Linked DNA regions of Homo sapiens: region 1 is linked to region 2. The links come from fine-mapping of genetic effects on gene expression. A gene starts in region 2. The other region holds a variant in brackets. All regions are shown on one strand. Distances are between the middles of the regions.

The links. PIP is the estimated chance that this variant, and not a neighbour inherited with it, causes the effect.
Region 1: its variant is fine-mapped to the expression of LONP1 in whole blood (TOPMed, PIP 0.94).

The regions. Positions count from the first base shown.
Region 1 is chr19:5,684,047-5,694,235 of GRCh38, reverse strand. It overlaps HSD11B1L (hydroxysteroid 11-beta dehydrogenase 1 like), which reads right to left. Exons shown (of 8, transcript NM_198706.3): 2 at 9,331-9,417; 3 at 9,117-9,247; 4 at 7,709-7,820; 5 at 7,245-7,336; 6 at 6,861-6,954; 7 at 6,568-6,733; 8 at 5,714-6,483. The coding sequence starts at 9,403. The coding sequence ends at 6,291. RPL36 (ribosomal protein L36) reads right to left here and starts at 3,941. Exons shown (of 4, transcript NM_033643.3): 1 at 3,909-3,941; 2 at 3,636-3,730; 3 at 2,783-2,917; 4 at 2,361-2,704. The coding sequence starts at 3,728. The coding sequence ends at 2,615. It overlaps LONP1 (lon peptidase 1, mitochondrial), which reads left to right. Exons shown (of 18, transcript NM_004793.4): 16 at 467-684; 17 at 774-938; 18 at 2,028-2,402. The coding sequence ends at 2,204. RefSeq lists enhancers at 2,240-2,289, 2,350-2,399, 2,587-3,112, 3,113-3,638, 3,639-4,164 and 2 more and silencers at 2,830-2,879, 6,698-6,757, 6,998-7,147, 7,218-7,477. The variant G/A (reference allele first, on the strand shown) is at 3,753.
Region 2 is chr19:5,713,915-5,723,732 of GRCh38, reverse strand. LONP1 (lon peptidase 1, mitochondrial) reads left to right here and starts at 3,587. Exons shown (of 18, transcript NM_004793.4): 1 at 3,587-4,029; 2 at 9,462-9,550. The coding sequence starts at 3,601. CATSPERD (catsper channel auxiliary subunit delta) reads right to left here and starts at 3,096. Exons shown (of 22, transcript NM_152784.4): 1 at 2,925-3,096. The coding sequence starts at 2,995. RefSeq lists enhancers at 3,338-3,437, 3,390-3,906, 4,940-5,455, 5,456-5,972 and silencers at 3,718-3,767, 3,898-3,977.

The DNA.
Region 1 (10,189 bases), 30 kb after region 2:
GCTGAGGGAGGGGAAGGCTGTGACACATGGGGGTGGCAGCACACCATGGGCCTTATGGATTTGGGTGCCACTTTGATAGGCTTACAGGTAAGGACAAGCTCATCCAGATGGGCCTTGGGGCCACCACGCACAAAGGAGGCGAGAGGGCAAAGGGGATGGTGCGGGAGGGGCTGGAGAAGGGCTTGTGTCTGTCTGCAGGGCAGCGGCAGCTGGGCCTTGTAGCCCTGGGCGTGTCCTCTGTGGCTGGCAGCTGCTGGGGGCTGCCCTGTGGGGCGTACAGAGCCAGGAACCCGCAACGCAGCAAACGTAGAGGCCAGCGTTGGCTCACGATGGGACACCAACCCCTGCCCAGGGGCACCAAGATGCTAAACTGGGGCAGGAGCGGTCAGAGTGGCCCCGAGGGGTGGAGTGAGCACCGGCCTGGGCTCCGAGGCCTCCCGTGTTCACAGCTCCACACCTGTTTCAGGAGGCTCCACGCTGTTTGTGGAGACATCCCTGAGACGGCCACAGGACAAGGATGCCAAGGGTGACAAGGATGGCAGCCTGGAGGTGACAGGCCAGCTGGGGGAGGTGATGAAGGAGAGCGCCCGCATAGCCTACACCTTCGCCAGAGCCTTCCTCATGCAGCACGCCCCCGCCAATGACTACCTGGTGACCTCACACATCCACCTGCATGTGCCCGAGGTGACCGCGCCATCCGCTCCCACCTGCTCCCGCCCAGTCCCTGGGCTGCTGGCCACCTGCTCACCCACTATCCCCACATGCCTCCACAGGGCGCCACCCCCAAGGACGGCCCAAGCGCAGGCTGCACCATCGTCACGGCCCTGCTGTCCCTGGCCATGGGCAGGCCTGTCCGGCAGAATCTGGCCATGACTGGCGAAGTCTCCCTCACGGGCAAGATCCTGCCTGTTGGTGGCATCAAGGAGAAGACCATTGCGGTGAGTGTCCCTGTACCCACCCCACAGCACTGGCAGGGCCCACACCACCACGGGACAGGCCCAGTCCCCGCCATGCAACCTCTGCCTGGGCCAAGGAGAGGGAAGCCCTGGGCTTTGGAAGCAGGTCTCTCTGGCCTGGAGCTGGCCTTAAGCTCACCGCCCTAGCTGCCTTCTCCACAGCAAGTCTTGTGGAGAACATTCTGAGCCTCCACTGGCTTCCCCAGTAGGATTGGGGGGGTGGCTCCTGCTTCTCTTCCCAGGCAGCCCAGCGCCAAGGGAGAGGCTAGAGATGGGGACGACGTTTAGGATTACTGGTGGCGGGGGTGTTTGGAGCCCCTGGCCAGGGGCTGGCCTCTTCCAAGGGTGCTGAGCAGGTTGGAGCGCCACTGTCCCCACTCTTCCCTCCCATCCCTGCCTGTCCCCAGACTGGACCACACTTGCCATGTGTCTAGGAAGCCTGGTGCAGTCAGTCAGGAGATGCCACCACGAGGGAGGCATGGTCAAGTGGCTGTGACCACCTTGAATTGGACACCAGGCACAGACTTCCTAGATGATAAAATGGTGGAGGCAAATTGGGAGGCTCACTGTCCATGGAGTCAGTGTGCGGTGACAGTGGGAACTGCTGTCCTTTCAAGGGGCTGTGGTGGGGCTGTGCCTGGCATCTACTCCAGATATGTGTAGCCTCCGGAGGTGAGGGGGGTGACGCAGGGCCTGGGGGCAGAGATGCAGATGCTCACAGGAACCCTGTTCAGGCCCCAGACACTGCCTGACCTCTGGATGTGAGGCCGTGGGTGTGTGGCTCATCCAGAGCCCTGAGACTGCTCCCACCGCACGGCCAGACTTCCTAGATAAGGGGGTGGGGAGGCCCTGGCTCCTGCTCTCAGGCTGTTGGAGCCAAGGCCAGTGGTTTTGCCTTGAGCCTGTTTCCCCGTGGGAGACGGGGACCCTGGTGGGTTTTGGGACTTACTGCTTAGAACCCGGCATCACTGTGTATCGCCGGTCCCCAGGAAGCCCTTTCGTTCCTGGAGGTTAGCACACCTGCTGCCCTCCCACAGGCCCAGGCAGGGCTGACCCTGACTCTGCCCCCAGGCCAAGCGCGCAGGGGTGACGTGCATCGTCCTGCCAGCCGAGAACAAGAAGGACTTCTACGACCTGGCAGCCTTCATCACCGAGGGCCTGGAGGTGCACTTCGTGGAACACTACCGGGAGATCTTCGACATCGCCTTCCCGGACGAGCAGGCAGAGGCGCTGGCCGTGGAACGGTGACGGCCACCCCGGGACTGCAGGCGGCGGATGTCAGGCCCTGTCTGGGCCAGAACTGAGCGCTGTGGGGAGCGCGCCCGGACCTGGCAGTGGAGCCACCGAGCGAGCAGCTCGGTCCAGTGACCCAGATCCCAGGGACCTCAGTCGGCTTAATCAGAGTGTGGCATAGAAGCTATTTAATGATTAAAGTCATTTGCAGTACGGCGGCTTCCTCACCTGCTGCCCCGGGAAGGGTGGGCGGGCCACGGCTTTTGATTCACGACCAGGCAGCACCCGGAGAGGGTGTGGCTCAGAGCGGGCACCAGACAGGGGACTGCGGGCCCCCGACACACCCACACCCACCCACGGACAGCAGGAGAGCCAGGGCTTCTGTCAAGCTGTTCTTTATTTCAGGGAGAGGGCAGGGGAGGGGCTCAGTCTTTCTTGGCAGCAGCTTTCCTCATGGCGGCCAGTACGTTGCTCAGCTCCTCCCGCTTCCTCTTGGCGCGGATGTGCGTCCCCACCTGCCAGGGACGAGGCCGCCGTCAGCCCGGCCCTGACTCCCATCCCACCCCGCCCCTCGGCCGGCAGCGCCCACCTACCCTTTTCTTGATAAATTTGAGGGCCCGTTTGTCCTTGGAGACCTTCAGTAACTCCATGGCGCGCCGCTCGTACGGGGCAAAGCCACACACCTCCCGAATCATGTCCCGCACGAACTTGGTGTGTTTGGTCAGACGCTAGGGGGGAAAGGGGCGGCCGTCAGGGTAGGGGGATCCCTGCATTCTAGTTAAGCAGCTTCTCTCGCGCTGCCGCGATTTCCCTGGCTACTTCCTCCCCTCTGTGGGTAGCTGTGAGAACCAAGGTATTAACGCCTAGCGCTTTTCGCCGCGCCCGGAGCAGCTCCCATCCTCCCTAAGTCCCAGTCTCCGCAACACTGGCAGGACGCACCTGGAGTCTGGGCTGCCTGCTGAATAAAGGCGCCCAATACACTGACACACCTGAAATCCCTCAACCTCACACACCGCAACCTCGGGCCAGCTCCATGAGCGAACTCCTTACTCCTGCGTCAGAACCCCAAACCCGCTGCCCGCTTAATAAAGGCGCCCAATACACTGACACACCTGAAATCCCTCAACCTCACACACCGCAACCTCGGGCCAGCTCCATGAGCGAACTCCTACTCCTGCGTCAGAACCCCAAACCCGCTGCCCCGCGCCGCTCTCAAGGTGCTCCCTCTGCCCCAGCGTGGATTGCACGGTTGGGAAAAACCCAGATGGGTGCCCGCCTTCGAGCACCAGGCAGGAAGTCCCACTCCCCCACCCCATCTCTTCCATTCAAGCCCCCCTTAGTTCTGCGCCCGAACGCGCGTTCTTTCAGGTCGAGAGCCTTTGCCCAAGCCATGCCCTCCGCCCTCCAAGAAACCCCCGACAACCTCCGCGCGGCACCCGCACTCACCCCGCGGCGTCGGCTGTGCCTGGGCTTGCTCACGTTCTTGGTCACTTTGTGGCCCTTGTTGAGGCCCACGGCCATAGGGTAGCGTAGGGCCATGGCTGCGGACAGCGACGGGGAGAA[G/A]GGGCGGAGGTGAGTACCGGCTCAGTTCCCGAGGCCCAGAGCCCCGCGTCCCGGCTCCTTCAGCCTCGCTCGCCACAACCAACCATCCTCCAACCTGCACAGAGGACCCGGGAGTCCGGATGGCGGCGGATACCGGCAGTGCGGGAAACCACTTACCTGCTGCTCTCCAGAGACGGCCGTGGCGGAAGGGCTGGCGCCGCGCGGAACTCCGGGATATCTACTCGGCTCAGGAGGCGCAGGCCAGAGAGGCAAGAACGGCACGCGCTCCCCCTGGCGGCTGGAGTCTTCCCCGCCGTTGCGCTGAGCATGCGCGACCGAGCTCCCTGAGCATGCGCGTTTACTCCTGCGAGCCCGGGAGCTGGAGTCGGAACCAGTGGAGGTGGCTATGGCTGCTCTCCTCCCTCTGCCTGTGAAATGAGTTCGAATCCCAACTCCGCCTATTTCGGGCCGACCCTGCATCGACGACATCACCTCTCAGAATTTCTTCACTTGTAGAGCGGGAATAATAATACCAAACTGTATGAACTGTTAAAACGCCCATTAGGCCGGGCGCGGTGGCTCACGCCTGTAATCTCAGCACTTTGGGAGGTCGAGGCATGTGGATCACGAGGTCAGGAGCTCGAGACCAGCCTAATACGGTGAAACCCCGTCTCTACTAAAAATACAAAAAATTAGCCAGGCGTGGTGGTGGGCACCTGTAGTCCCAGCTACTCGGGAGGCCGAGGCAGGAGAATGGCGTGAACCCAGGAGGCAGAGCTTGCAGTGAGCCGAGATCGTGCCACTGCACTCCAGCCTGGGCGACAGAGCAAGACTCCGTCTCAATAAATAAATAAATAAATAAATAAATAAATAAATAGCCAGGCGTGGTGGCATGCTCCTGTAATCCCAGCTACGCAGGAGGCTGAGGCAGGAGAATTGCTTGAGCCCAAGAGGCAGAGGTTGCAGTGAGCCGAGATCGCACCACTGCACTCCAGCCTGGGCGACAGAGCGAAACTCCATTTAAAAAAAAAGGTATTGGTTTTGTTATCAATTGGTCAAGCTCTAGACTAGGTCTGAATACAGCAACGTGTAATAGTGCCCCTTGCGGACATCTGATGTAATTTAGGTGGTGTAGGGACGGGACGCTAAATAACTGAATCGGGTGGCAGAAACACACAAGTTTCCAGTTTTTCTCCTTTAATGCTACTAATATACAAGAAGAGAGTCTCAATTTAGGGCTGCTCTAATTAGGGTTAGCGCTTTCATGTTTTTTCCAGACAGGGTCTTGCTCTGTCGCCCAGGCTAGAGTGCACTGCTGTAATCATAGCTTATTGTAGCCTTGACTTCCAGGGCTCAAGTGATCCTCCTGCCTTAGCCTCCTTAGCTGGGACCACAGGCACATGCCACCACGCCTGGCTAATTTTTTAATTAAAATATTTGTTTGTGGCCGGGTGCAGTGGCTGACACCTGTAATCCCAGCACTTTGAGAGGCCGAGACAGGGGGATCACCTAAGGCTAGGAGTTCGAGACCAGCCTGGCCGACATGGTAAAACCCCGTCTCTACTAAAAATACAAAAAGTCAGGCGTTGTGACCCACACCTGTAATCTGAACTATTTGGGAGGCTGAGGCACAAGAATCGCTTGAACCCCGGAGGCAGAGGTTGCAGTGAGCCTAGATCGCACCACTGCACTCCAGCCTGGGCGATAGAGTGAGACTCCGTCTAATAAATAAATAAATAAAGACAGGGTTTCACCATGTTGGCCAGGCTGGTCTCAAACTCCTGACCTCAAGTGATCTGCCCACCTTGACCTCTCAAAGTGCTGGGATTATAGGCGTGAGCCACTGCTCCTGGCCCTCTCAGCCTCCATTTCCCCACCTGTGAAATGGGATTGAGAGTCAAGGCCCCTGATACACACACCCCCTCCCGCTGCCCGCTGGCTGCTAGCAAATTGGAATTACCAAGGAATTTGAACAACAGATATGCAAGAGAAGAAGAGTTTTTATTCTCGAACAAGAGGCTGGGTCCAGCTCAGAACACACTCTTTCCCTCCTCCTCCCGCTCAGACCCTGCCACCAGGTAGACGAACAGTGTAGACGCCCCTGCAGGTGTGAAGAGTACCAGAGACCCCAGCTAGGGGAAGCTGGCAGGAGTTGGGGGGGTTCCTCCCAGATGGAATGAATGGAAAGAATAAATCAGGGACTTAAAGGCGCAGGCAGGAGATGGAGAGGGGTCCATGGGTGGCTCAAGGGTGGCGTGGCCTCTCTGAGCCTTAGTTTCCTCATCTGCAAAATGGAAGCAGTCACGTCATCAATCATGGCCAAACAGGTGAGGCCTTGCAAGTCCCCGACAAAGGCGCCTAACACGGGGCACCTGCACCTCCCAAGCCGTGACTGGTTCCAGGTGCCCGTCGTTTTTCTCGGTTTTGCTTTTCTGTCTTGATGACTTCATCTTGGGCTGTGGCCACCCTCTCAGGGGTGTCTCTGTGAGTGTTCTGGCTCCAGGGACAGTTGGAGGGAGGAACATTGCCGTCTGGGACTGGAGGGGCACCCCCCGGTGCTCAGGCTGCCGCGGCCGTGACGTTGAGCTCCTGGCGGATAAACCAGGCCCGCGGGCGCGGTAGCCAGCGCCGGAGCAAGCACAGCAGGCGGAAACGCCACGGGTAGAAGACGCCGGCCGCGCGCGTGGCGCCGCCGCGGATCACGGCCAGGGCTGCCTTGGGCCCCGGGGCCGCCTTGACCCTCGTGACTCCCCTGGGGACAGGAGGGCACGGTGGGGACTGCGGCTGGGGCTGGGCCATGGCCCCCAGCCCAGCCCCCAGCTTGTCCGGGCCTCACCTGACTGCCTCGGCGGCGGAGGCGCGATCTCGGAGGCCCAGGACGCACATGGTGATGGCCACGTTCACGTCCTGCACGTCCAGCTCCCGCCGCAGGGAGCCGAAGAAGCCGTCCAGCGCAAACTTGGCCGCCGAGTAGGGAGTGGAGAACGACGTGGGCACGCGGCCTGGGGGCGCGGACGGCAGCGGCTGAGTGGCTCCCCCTCGTCCGGGAAGCCTGCCCAGACCCTCCAGGCTCACCCGCATCGAGCTCCCCACTCCCCGTCCCGCAGAGCCGGGGCCGGGTGCACGCACCGAGCAGCGAGGACACCACCACCAGGGAGCCCTTGCTGTCCGTCAGGCTGGGCAGCGCCCGCGACGTCAGTTGCACGTAGCTCACAAAGTTTACCTGCAGGCGGCACTCGCGAGTCACCGGCAGAGGCGGAGCCCAGGGGCAGGGCGGGGCCAGAAACCCAGAGGGCGGGGCCAGGGCCGGGTCAGAGACGGGGCCAGAAACCCGGAAGGCGGGTCCGAGGGCGGGGTCAAGGCCGGAGCAGGGGCTTGGGCTAGGAGGGGCGTGGCTGGGGCGGGACGGGTGGAGAGCCCTCCCTGGAGAAGGCAGAACCCGGACCGCGAAGGGAACGGACCACCGGTCCCTGAGATAGAGGGGCGGGCCGGGGCCGCGGAGGAGCGGAGCACCTGCATGAGCCAGCGAGTTGCCTGGGGGCTGCGGGCTCGCGTGCCGGCCGGGGCGCCGCCGATGTGGTTCAGCACGAGGTAGTCCAGCCCGCCTGGCCCAGAAACGCCGGTCAGCCCCGGAGGCCCCTCCCCAAGGAAACGATCAAACCCCGCCCCCGAGCTTAGCTCCACCCAGAGCGCTGGTCCAGCGAGCTCCGCCCCAGGTAACTCCCACTACGATCAAAGACACCCAGCCTTGGCCTTACACCCTGGATCTAGCAAGGTTTGGTTCCCATTCAACGAGGCCCCGTTCAGAGCTCTTCCCCCAGACGCAATGAGACTCCACCCCGCCCACGCCCCCAGTCCCCATTTGTCTCCGCCCTGAGACACCTGTTACTGTGGCCACACCCACAGCCCAATTCTGGTCCTGTCCCTAAGGCCTAGGCCACGGTCCCGGACTCCAGGCTTCAGGCCCAGCCCCTCACCCAGCTTGTCCAGCGCAAACTGCACCACGCTCTCGGGCGCCTCAGGGGAGGCCATGTCCGCCGCGATGTAGAAGACCTTGGGGGCGCCCAGCTTCCGGCAGTTCCCTACCACCTGGGGGGGGCCAGAGCTGCCCGTGGGCCTCTCCTCTACAGCAGCGCTTCCCCCTCCACCGCACCTGCTGGCCATAGGGAGGCCCCCGCCTGAAAACCCCCCCCTACTCTGAGCCTCGGGACCCATTCAACATCATTCCCAAAAATTTACCACTGCTTGAGGGGCGCAAAGTGGAGGCCCGCGGGCCAGAATGCTGGCCAATTTGGTGGTTAGTCAATCACCAACATCTAAAACAGGACATTTCATCTACAATTTCCTGATTGCTAGCTTCTCTTGAAATATTGAAAGGTTTGTGCCCAAGAGCCATACCCTTCCTTGAAGTAGCAATGGACTGCTTGTTGCTAAGAAGTGCCCATCCTTCCCTTCGAGTTTAAGAACCCTGGCTATCAGCACAGGCCTGGACACTCAATACTCTCATTTGTTAAGAAACACTGCATCTTCTAGTCACCGTCTCACTGCATTGGCACAACATCCTAACCCATGAGAAGGTGGGTTTTTTTGTTTGTTTGTTTGAGACAGAGTCTCACTTTGTTGCCCAGGCTGGAGTGCAGTAGTGCGATCTCGGCTCACTGCAACCTCTGCCTCCGGGGTTCAAGTGATTCTCCTGACTCAGCCTCCCATGTAGCTGGGACTACATGCTCGCGCCACCATGCCCTAATTTTTTTTTTTCTTTTTTTTGAGATGGAGTATCGCTCTGTCACCCAGGCTGGAGTGCAGTGGCGCGATCTCAGCTCACTGCAACCTCCACCTCCCGGGTTCCAGCAATTCTCCCGCCTCAGCCTCCCCAGTAGCTGGGATTACAGGTGCCTGACACCACGCCGGCTAATTTTTTATTTATTTATTTTATTTTTATTTTTTGTATTTTTAGTAGAGACAGGGTTTCACCATGTTGGCCAGGCTGGTTTTGAACTCCTGACCTCAAGTGATCCATCCGCCTTGGCCTCCCAAAGTGCTAGGATTACAGGCATGAGCCACCATGCCTGGCCTAATTTTTGTCTTCTTAGTAGAGACCAGGTTTCGCCATGTTGGCCAGGCTGGTCTTGAACTCCTGACCTCAGGTGATCCACTTTCCTCGGCCTCCCAAAGTGCTGACTACAAGCGTGAGCCACCGTGCCTGGCCAGAAAGTGGTTTTATTGTCCCCGTTTTGCAAATGAGGAAACTGAGAGGCTCAGAGAGGTTAGGCGACTTGCCCAAGGTCACACGGGAAGCCTGGATCATTGCAGGGATTAAACCCAGGCTCTCTTCCCACCCCCCATGAGCACCCCCACCATTCATCTAGACATGGGGTGGCTCACCTTCTGCAGGAGAGCCTCAGTGTGGGCAGTGAGCACCAGGTGGGAGCCCAGACGCGCGTAGTGATAGGCCAGCTCCTCACCAACACCAGCGTTGGCCCCTGTCAGCAGCACTCGCGCTCCCTGGAGGCTGGCTGGCCATAGCCGGGGTGGTCACTCTGGGCGGAGGACAGGACAGCTGGCCCGGTTTCTCCCTCCCTCAACCCCAGGTGCTCACCTGGGTCGAAGTTGTCATCCCAATAATAGGCGAAGAACAGGGCCCCCAGCCCTGTGAGGAGAAGCACCTTCATGGTCCTGTGTGGGCCTGCAGAGGGACAGGGGACAGAGGTGGCCGGCACAGGCCTGGCCCACAGCCACCCGTGTTTGGTGGGTGTTTGGTGATGCCACCGCCTTGGATCCACGCCTTCCTATCCACCTCCACAGCCACCACCTGTCCAGGCCACCACGGTGGCTCCATGAACCACCGCGGCTCCATGAACCACCGCACCTGCACCCTCCCCCTCCACCCTTCTCAGCCCTCTCCATCTGCACACCTTGCCTCTCCTGGACTGAAAATCCTTCCTGTTCCAGTTAGAATAAAAACCAGACTCCTTGGTGGCTACAAACGCCCTGTGTGGACCTGTCCTCCTTGCTCACTCCGCTCCACTAAAACAGACCCTTCGCTGTTCCTTGAAACCAGCCAGTCACTATCCTGCCTCAGGGCCTTCTCGTGGGCTGTTCCTACTGCCTAGAATGCTGTTCCCGGATATAACCCAATGGCTTGCTCTCTCACTTCTTTCAAGTCTCAGTGCAAAAGTGACCTCCTTCAGCTGGATGTGGTGGCTCATGCCTGGAATCCCAGCACTTTGGGAGGCTGAGGCGGGCAAATCACTTGAGATCAGGAGTTCGAGACCAGCCTGGCCAACATGGTGAAACCCCATCTCTATTAAAAATACAAAAATTAGCCGGGCGCGGTGGCAGGCGCCTGTAATCCCAGCTACTCAGGGGGCTGAGGCACGCACATGCCTGTAATCCAGATATTTGGGAGGCTGAGGCAGGAGAATCGCTTGAACCTGGGAGGCAGAAGTTGTAGTGTG
Region 2 (9,818 bases):
CAGCACTTTAGGAGGCCGAGGCGGGTGGATCACGAAGTCAGGAGATCGAGACCATCCTGGCTAACACGGTGAAACCCCGTCTCTACTAAAAACACAAAAAAATTAGCCGGGCGTGGTTGCGGCACCTGTAGTCCCAGCTACTCGGGAGGCTGAGGCAGGAGAATGGTGTGAACCCAGAAGGCAGAGCTTGCAGTGAGCCGAGATGGCGCCATTGCACTCCAGCCTGGGCAACAGAGCGAGACTCCGTCTCAAAAAAAAAAAAAAAAAAAAAAAATTAGCTGGGCAGGGTGGCGGGCGCCTGTTATCCCAGATACTCAGGAGGCTGAGGGCTGAGGCACTAGAATCGCTTGAACCTTGGAGGCAGAGGTTGCAGTGAGTTGAGCTCTTGCCACACTGCACTCCAGCCTGGGCGACAGAGCAAGCCTCCGTCAAAAAATAAAATTTGTATGAAACTCCTCTCCCAGAAACAGACATAAGTACACACAAAATGTAGAAATGATTTCTGAAAATTTCTTTTTTCTTTTTCTTTTTCTTTTTTTTTTTTTTGAGACAGAATCTCGCTCCGTCGCCCAGGCTGGAGTGCAGTGGCGCGATCTCAGCTCACTGCAAGCTCCACCTCCCGGGTTCACGCCATTCTCCTGCCTCAGCCTCCCGAGTAGCTGGGACTACAAGCGCCCGCCACCACACCGACTAATTTTTTGTATTTTTGGTAGAGACGAGGTTTCACCGTGTTAGCCAGGATGGTCTCGATCTCCTGACCTCGTGATCCGCCCGCCTCCACCTCCCAAAGTGCTGGGATTACAGGCGTGAGCCCCCGCGCCCGGCCAAGAATTTCTAAAGGCTCCTTCACAGACCCCAGCTGAGGAAAATTATGAAGTCCTGCAACAAGGTATTCGGGGCTCCTTAAGGGAGTGTGTGGTGACTGGAAGGATGGTATAGTTTACAGCAGAGGTGCTCAATCTTGAATATGCATCAGAATCACCGGGGTTGCGGGGGGGGGGGTCTTGATAAACCACCGTTTGCTGGGTCCCACTGCCAAGTCCCCGACTCAGTAGGTCCAGGGAACTGCATTTCTAACCAATTATAATAAATTCCAGGTGATCTTGATGCTGCTGGTCCAGGGACCATTCTTTGAGAGCCTGTGTGGGGAAATGAGAGAACTGGATATAACCCACATTTTCAGAACTCGAGACAAATCCTATTAGTAAATTTCACTGGAAAATGTTTCTCCCACTTACTAGGTATGTGTTGTTAGGCAAGTGTGTCTTTAACTTTCCTAAGTATGCTTTCGTATCTATAAAATAAGGGTGTTGGCCGGGCGCGGTGGCACACGCCTGTAAGCCCAGCACGTTGGGAGGCCGAGGCAAGTGAATCACGAGGTCAGGAGTTCGAGACCAACCTGGGCAACATGGTGGAACCCTGTCTCTACTAAAAACACAAAAAATTAGCTGCACGTGGTGGCAGGCGCCCATAATCCCAACTACTCTGGAGGCTGAGGCAGGAGAATTGCTTGAACTTGGGAGGCGGAGGTTGCAGTGAGCCGAGACCGTGACATTGTACTCCAGCCTGGGCGACGAGAACAAGACTCCATCTCAAAAAAATAAAATAAGGGTATGGCTGGGCATGGGTGGCTCATGCCTGTAATCCCAACACTTTGGGAGGCTGAGGCAGGAGGATCACTGGAGCCTAGGAGTTCAAGACCAGCCTGGGCAAAACAGTGAGACCCCATCTCTTTTTTTTTTTTTTTCCTTTGAGACAGAGTCTCCCTTTGTCACCCAGGCTGGAGTGCGATCTCAGCTCACTGCAACCTCCACCTCCTGAATTCAAGCGATTTTTCTGCCTCAGCCTCCCAAGTAGCTGGGATTACAGGCACCTGCCACCAAGCCTGGCTAATTTTTGTATTTTTAGTAGAGACGAGGTTTCATCATGTTGGCCAGGCTGGTCTGGAACTCTTGACCTCAAGTGAGTGATCTGCCCACCTCTACCTCTCAAAGTGTTGGGATTACAGGCGTGAGCCACTGCACCCAGCCAGTGAGACCCCATCTGTACAAAAAATAATAATAAATAAAATAAAATAAGGTTAAGGAATCATTATGAATCTTCCTGTAAACATCAAATGAGGCCATACACCCTAAGAATACAGCTCACAGGTCCCTACTGAATGTGACAGTTTAGTCCAGATGGGAGTTCCCTGAGGGCAGGAACGGAGTTTCAGCAACTGGTCCCCATGGCAGGTTGGAGTATGCACTAACCTAACATTTACTGAAATTTCAAAATGTGCTGGGTAAGGCTGGGCGCGGTGGCTCACGCCTGCAATCCCAGCACTTTGGGAGGCGGGGGTTGCAGTGAGCAGAGATCGCGCCACTGCACTCCACCCTGGGAAACAGAGCAAAAACTCCGGCTCCAAAAAGAAAAAGAAGTGGGAGGGCTAGGCCCGGCGTGGTGGCTCACGCCTGTAATCCCAGCACTTTGGGAGGCCGAGGCAGGCGGGTCACGAGGTCAGGAGATCGGGACCATCCTGGCTAATACGGTGAAACCCCCGTCTTTACTAAAAATACAAAAAAAAATTAGCCGGGCGTGGTGGCAGGCGCCTGTAGTCCCAGCTACTCAGGAGGCTGAGGCAGGAGAATGGCGTGAATCCGGGAGGCGGAGCTTGCAGTGAGCCGAGATCGCGCCACTGCACTGCAGCCTGGGCGACAGAGCGAGACTCCGTCTCAAAAAAAAAAAAAAAAAGAGGTAGGAGAGCTTAATATCGGGCTGGGAGGATGGGGTGGAGTAGGGTGAGCGAGGCGTCAAGTTCGATTCCTAAAAAGAGTAAAAGGGGAGCCTCAGTGAGGTTGGGGAGCAGGCCTCGGCTCCAAGATGAACCAGCACCCTCCCGACCCCCGGCAGCACCCCAGCCCCAGGAGTCCTGGCAGCCCCACCGACAGAGCTGAGCTGTGACCAGCGGTCGGAGCCACATGGTCACAGCCGCCACCAGCATCAACATCAGCATCGACTTGGGCTTCCGCCGCCACCACTGCCCCTCAACCGCCACGGGGAGTCGCTGCACAATCCGAGTACGTGCAGGCTGAAGCCCTGCGCATGCGCATCAATGAGTCCCGGGAGCGGGCCTCCGCGCACTGCAGCCCGGCGCTCCGCCTGAATCTTGAGCATGCGCAGACGAATCCCGGGAAGCCCGAATCCGCGCACCCCAAAGTGCGCTCAGAGCCTGAGTATGCGCACCCGGCCACCCGTGGCCAGTCTAGAGTCTGAGCATGCGCATGTTGTCCGCGCGCCTAAGCATGTGCACAGGCTGCTCATGAGTTCCTAAACGTTGCGTTTGCAACACTACCAGTGTTTTGTACGGGCGCTGGCGCCTGCTCACAGCCTTCCACGTGACCGGAAAAGGCCTTCAGCGCATAAAGTGGGAGACCGGAAGAGGCGGAGACGATCCGATGCTCGAACTCCGCCCCCTCTTCTCCGCGTAGGCCCAGCTCCCTGAAGCGGCTGTTTCGAGCCACGCGCCCATCGGGTACCGAGGCACGCGCCGGGCGTCACGTGCGTTTCGCGGCGAGCGGAAATGACGCGAGTTGTGTGAGCCGCCAGTATGGCCGGGCTATGGCGGCGAGCACTGGCTACGTGCGACTGTGGGGAGCGGCGCGGTGCTGGGTGCTGCGGCGGCCGATGCTGGCCGCCGCCGGGGGGCGGGTTCCCACTGCAGCAGGAGCGTGGTTGCTCCGAGGCCAGCGGACCTGCGACGCCTCTCCTCCTTGGGCACTGTGGGGCCGAGGCCCGGCAATTGGGGGCCAATGGCGGGGGTTTTGGGAAGCGAGCAGCCGCGGCGGAGGCGCATTCTCGGGGGGCGAGGACGCCTCCGAGGGCGGCGCGGAGGAAGGAGCCGGCGGCGCGGGGGGCAGCGCGGGCGCCGGGGAAGGCCCGGTCATAACGGCGCTCACGCCCATGACGATCCCCGATGTGTTTCCGCACCTGCCGCTCATCGCCATCACCCGCAACCCGGTGTTCCCGCGCTTTATCAAGATTATCGAGGTAATGGGAGTCCCCGCCTCGGCCTCAGGTTTCCCACCTGTGCAAGCAGCGGGCTGAACCGTGGGATCACTTGAGCGCCCTTGTGTTTCGCAACTTTTTCAGACATGAAGTTTCTCGAAGGGTGCAGTTCGAATCCTTGTCTGCTCACCACTAGCTTGGGAACCTTGAGCCAAAGTCCTCTCCCTTTCGGATTTCTTAGGATCCGTTAGATGAGAGGAGTTGAACCCGATGAGCCTAGGATTATCCACTTTAGAACGCCGGTCATAGAAATCCGGGGCCGGGAGGGACCTGAGTAGTGTTACGGCGCTGTTAGTTTTCTCCTTACTTGGCACGAGTTTTGTAATACCTCCTCGCCCCAGGCGCTCTGCCGTCTGGTTACGAGCCTCACTGGGATCAGAATTCATTCCTTTCTTAGACAAATACTTCTTGATTGCTTATTATTTGCCAGAGAGTGTTCTAGGTTCTGGGGATATGGCAGTGAACAAAACAGACAAAAATTTCTGCCTTTGAAGCTGGGCATGGTGGCGCGCGCTGTACTCCCAGCTACTCTGGCGGCTGAGGTGGAAGGATTGTTGGAAACCTGGAGTCCAGCCTGGTCAACATGGCGAGACCCTGTCTCTTAAAAAATAAATCTGCCTTGGAGCTTACATTTTGGCAGGATGAGACAGGCAATAAAGATGTTTAGTAACGATATTGTATTAGAAGGCAATAATTACGAGAAATAGTAGAGCATGGATGGGACAGGAGGCTTAGGAGGGTGGGAAGAGGTGGGTTATTCAGTGTGTTCTTGACCTCCTACCACGTAGCAAGTTCTGAGAATACTGTAGAGAACAAGTCATTCCGGTGGTAGAAATTAGATCATTTCAGACTAAGAGCCTTGGGGGTGGGGAGGGAGCAGGATGATGTAATAGAGAGAAAGCAGTGAGTGTAAGGAACTTGAGCTTTTACAGTAGGAAGGCCCCAAAAGCCTTCTCCCCCAGCTCCCCTTCCCTTAAAAAAAAAAACTACTGATGTGGAAAGTGGCATCTATGGGAAGGTTATCTCCTAACTGGCAGAGCAAGGTCACGCAGTGAGTCAGCCTCTGCGCTCACTCTCCAGACTCTTCTAAACAAATCTCAAGGATCTGTTGGGAAGGGAAAGGCCATTTCAGAGGGGCAGCAGCCAGTAGAGAGGGGACAGAGGGAGCTTCTCCAACGCTGCTCCAAGATTTTTTTTTTTTTTTTTTTGAGACCAAGTTGCACTCTGTCATCTAGGCTAAAGTGCAGTGGCGCGATTTCAGCTCACTGCAACCTCTGCCTCCCGGGTTCAAGTGATTCTCCTGCCTCAGCCCCCTGAGTAGCTGGGATTACAGGCGCCCGCCACCGTGGCTGGCTAATTTTTCTATTTTTAGAAGAGACAGGGTTTCACCATGTTGCCCACGCTCGTCTCGAACTCCTGACCTCAAGTGATTCACCCGCCTCAGCCTCCCAAAGTGCTGGGATTGCAGGTGCGAGTCACTGCGCCCGGCCCCAAGGCCTTTCCTTGATGTTGAGTACTGGTTACTGATGCAGGCCCCCAGAGCAAGACCTTGTGGGGTCCTATCCTAGCTCCATAACCTTCAGCAAGTTATTCCTTTGGCTTCCCTCTTCTCATCTGTGACCTGGACATATTAGTGTCTTATTAGAGTTGTTGTGGGATTTAAATGAGGCCATGTGGGCTGGGCACGGTGTCTCACATGTTTAATCCCAGCACTTTGGGAGGCTGAGGCAGGAGCATAATTTGAAACCAGTATGGTCAACATAGACCCTGTCTCTACAAAAAAAAAAAAAAAAAGAAAGAAAGAAAAGCCGGGCACAGTGGCATGCACCTGTCTTCCCAGCTACTTGGAAGGCTGAGGCAGGAGGATCACTTGAAACTGGGAGATCAAGGCTGCAGTGAGCCATGGTGTCACCACTGCACTGCAGCCTGGGCAACAGAATGAGGCCCTGCCTCAGCAATAACGTGATGCTGTTTCCTCTTTGGTGTACTTCTGACATTTCAGGACTCTGCCCCGGAGGCCTTTTTCCCATCCTTGACTTCACCCCTGGCAGTTCTCTTTACCCTCCCAGGTTTCTGGGCCCAGGATGGTGTTCATCAGGCCTGGTCCCCTCCGTTCTGCAGAGCGACAGATGCCCCTTGCTCCCGGTGCCTGAGCAGAGAGATGATTCTTCTAAGAGAGTTCAGACGGCCCACGTGGAGCTAGCCAGGAGAGTTAAATGAGTGGCTGCAGATAGTATTTGGGAGACTGGCAGGTGGTTCTCATTGTATTTCTGGTTGATGATGCATTGTAAATCATAAAAATGGATCCTGCCAAGGCCAGGAGGCAGATGCCAAGGATGCAGCTATCAGCTGTTGGCAGAGGGGAAATTGGGAGGCAACTTCTTTGGGACCCAATAAATGTTTCTGAAATTGTTAGCAAAGCTTGATTTACTCTTCAGTTTGTACTTGACTTGTCTGGCCAACTTGCTCTAGAAGCTTCTCTCCTATTAGCAACTTTTGAGTAAGGAACAATGGCTCTTAATTTTTGGTGGGTATTAAAGAATAAATCATAAGTGTTAGAAGTATTAGTTTCTTTTAAAAACTAACTTCGTGGGCTGGGCGCGGTGGCTCACGCCTGCAATCCCAGCACTTTGGGAGGCTGAGGTGGGCGGATCACGAGGTCAGGAGATCGAGACCATACTGGCTAACAAGGTGAAACCCCGTCTCTACTAAAAATACAAAAAAATTAGCCTGGAGTGGTGGTGGGCGCCCGTAGTCCCAGCTACTCGGGAGGCTGAGGCAGGAGAATGGTGTGAACCCAGGAGGCGGAGCTTGCAGTGAGCTGAGATCGCTCCACTGCGCTCTAGCCTGGGCGACAGAGCAAGACTCTGTCTTAAAAAAAAATTGCTTCCCTCCTTTGTTCAGGTGTGCTCTGCTCTCGCCATTGTTCCATCTGCGAGGAGCACCCTTTCTTCAGAAAGTAAAATTGTCTTGCTAAGAAAACTTTTTGTCCAAATGCTAATTTTTCCTTACAGTACAGAGGTACAAGCGTTCTGTCTCTAAACAAACATTTTACTTATAACAGTGGGTCACACACCCTCCTGTCAGATGTTACTGACTTTTTTTTTTCTGGGAACAGAAAAAAAAAAAATTATGTATCTATAGTGTCAGGAATTTCTGGACCACAAGTTAAGAGCCTGTGTTAGGGAGTGAGTCAAAACACTGGCTCTCAAAGGATGGTTGTGGACCAGCAGCATCGGCATCATGTGATGCTCTTTTGTTTGAAATGCAGATTTTTGGACCCACCCTAGAACTGAATCAAAAACTCCAAGGGTGGGGCCCAGCAGTGAGCTGCTTAAAGTCCTTCAGGTCATCCTGGTGCCTGCAAAAGTTTGAGGGCCATTACTATATATATATATATATATATATATATATATATATATATATGTATATTTTAACTTTATTATATAATAAAGAATTAAAAACTTCAAAAAGAAAATAGAGATGGGGTCTCACTGTGTTACCCAGGCTGGTCTCAAACTCCTGGGCTCAAGCGATCCTCCCACCTCAGCCCCGCAAAGTGCTGGGATTACAGGCATGAGCTACCATTACCAGGCTAGCCAGGCCATTACCTTTAATCAGGGTCTGTCCAGTGAATTAACAAAGGCTTGAAAGAAATCAGGTGAGCTCCTTGCGCCTTCAAATGCTTCTTAGAAGACATCATTAGCCCTGAACCTGCCGTTGAGAATGTGCTGTGATCCTGGGGGTCTTGATCATTAATGAACAGCATATGATGTGATAAGGAAGTAACTGTCAATGAAAATTGGAGGAACCAGGCATGGTGGCTCATGGCGAAACTCCGTCTCTACTAATAATACAAAAATTAGCGAGTGCAGTGGCGTGTGCTTGTAACCCCAGCTATGTGGTAGGATGAGTTGGAAGAATCGCTTGAACCTGGGAGGTGGAGGTTGCAGTGAGCCGAGATTGCACCAGTGCACTCCAGCCTGGGTGGCAGAGTGAAACTTTCTTTTTTTTTTTTTTTTTTTTTTTTTTTTTTTTTTTTATGAGACAGAGTCTCACTCTGTCGCCCAGGCTGGAGTGCAGTGGCGTGATCTTGGCTCACTGCATGCTCCGCCTCCCGGGTTCACGCCATTCTCCTGCCTCAGCCTCCCGAGTAGCTGGGACTACAGGTGCCCGCCACCACGCCCGGCTAATTTTTGTATTTTTAGTAGAGACGGGGTTTCACCGTGTTAGCCAGGATGGTCTCGATCTCCTGACCTTGTGATCTGCCCGCCTCGGCCTCCCAAAGTGCTGGGATTACAGGCGTGAGCCACCGCGCCCAGCCTGAAACTTTATTAAAAAAAAAAAAAAAAGGAAGTTATCAATCTCTGGAGTGGGTCACATTTAAATTACTTATGTTTATTCTGACATTAATAAAAGCAGAATGGTTTTGATTTTCAAACCAAGACAGTTTGCCCTGGACATCCCCTTTGAAGCTGGATGTTAAATCAATTTCTGGGTTCTGACCATTCGTCTACTTTGAATTTCCTTTGGGAGTGGGGAAACCGCTAAGAAGAATCCAGCTGGTCAGTTCTGCTCACTGTATTCACCACCACAGCCTCCTGGCCTCCAGCACTTTTTTTTTTTTTTTTTTTTTTTTGTTTAGGCGTTCCCAAACCATGTTGATTAGTATCCAGGATGCGGATCAGCATGTCCCCAGAGAATAATCTACACAGCGTTAGAGCGGCTCTGCTGTCAAAAAATGTCAGCTACAAAAGCTACCCTGGGAGGCCGGGCGTGGTAGTTTACGCCTATAATCCCAGCACTTTGGGAGGCTGAGGTGGGTGGATCACGAGGTCAGGAGTTAAAGACCATCCTGGCCAAGATGGTGAAACCCCATCTCTACTAAAAATACAAAACAATCAGCCGGACCTGGTGGCGGGCGCCTGTAATCCCAGCTACTCAGGAGGCTGAGGCAGAGAATTGCTTGATCCCGGGAGGCGGAGGTTGCAGTGAGCTGAGATCATGCCACTGCACTCCAGCCTGGGTGACAGAGCGAGACTCCGTCTCAGAAAAAAAAAAAAAAAAGAAAAGCTACCCTGTGCTGCGTTTGGTGGCTCACGCCTATAATCCCGGCATTTTGGGAGGCTGAGGTGGGTGGATCACCTGAGGTCAGGAGTTCGAGACCAACCTGGCCAATATGGTGAAACCCCATCTCTACTAAAAATAAAAAAATTAGCCAGGTGTGGTGGTGCATGCCTGTAATCCCAGCTACTCAGGAGGCTGAGGCAGGAGAATCCCTTGAACTCAGTGGGGGTGGAGGTTGCAGTGAGCTGAGATCACGCCATTACATTCCAGCCAGGGCAACAGAATGAGACTCTGTCTCAAAAAAAAAATCTACTCTGCATTTCACTTTGGGGTCATTGTCATGCTAGGTTAAAAATAAGAAGTTGGTTGAGCTGCTGAGAAGGAAAGTTCGTCTCGCCCAGCCTTATGTCGGCGTCTTTCTAAAGAGAGATGACAGGTAAGTGTGATTTTTCCTTCATTCCCTTGTTGACGGTGCCCTAGAGTCCAGCTCACCACAAGTCCTACTCTGTACTTTGCACCTTTGACCCCTGACCCCGAGGAAACCAGGGAAGACCTCCAGAATAAAGGCCAGAAGCCACGCAGGCTACCTTTTCAGCCTGGGCTGAGAACTCAGCTTGTAGTACTAAACTTCATGCATTGTTAAGATACGGGGGAAATTAACTTCAGGGACTCTTAGTGATGAAATGCTCCATGAGGCTACCTGA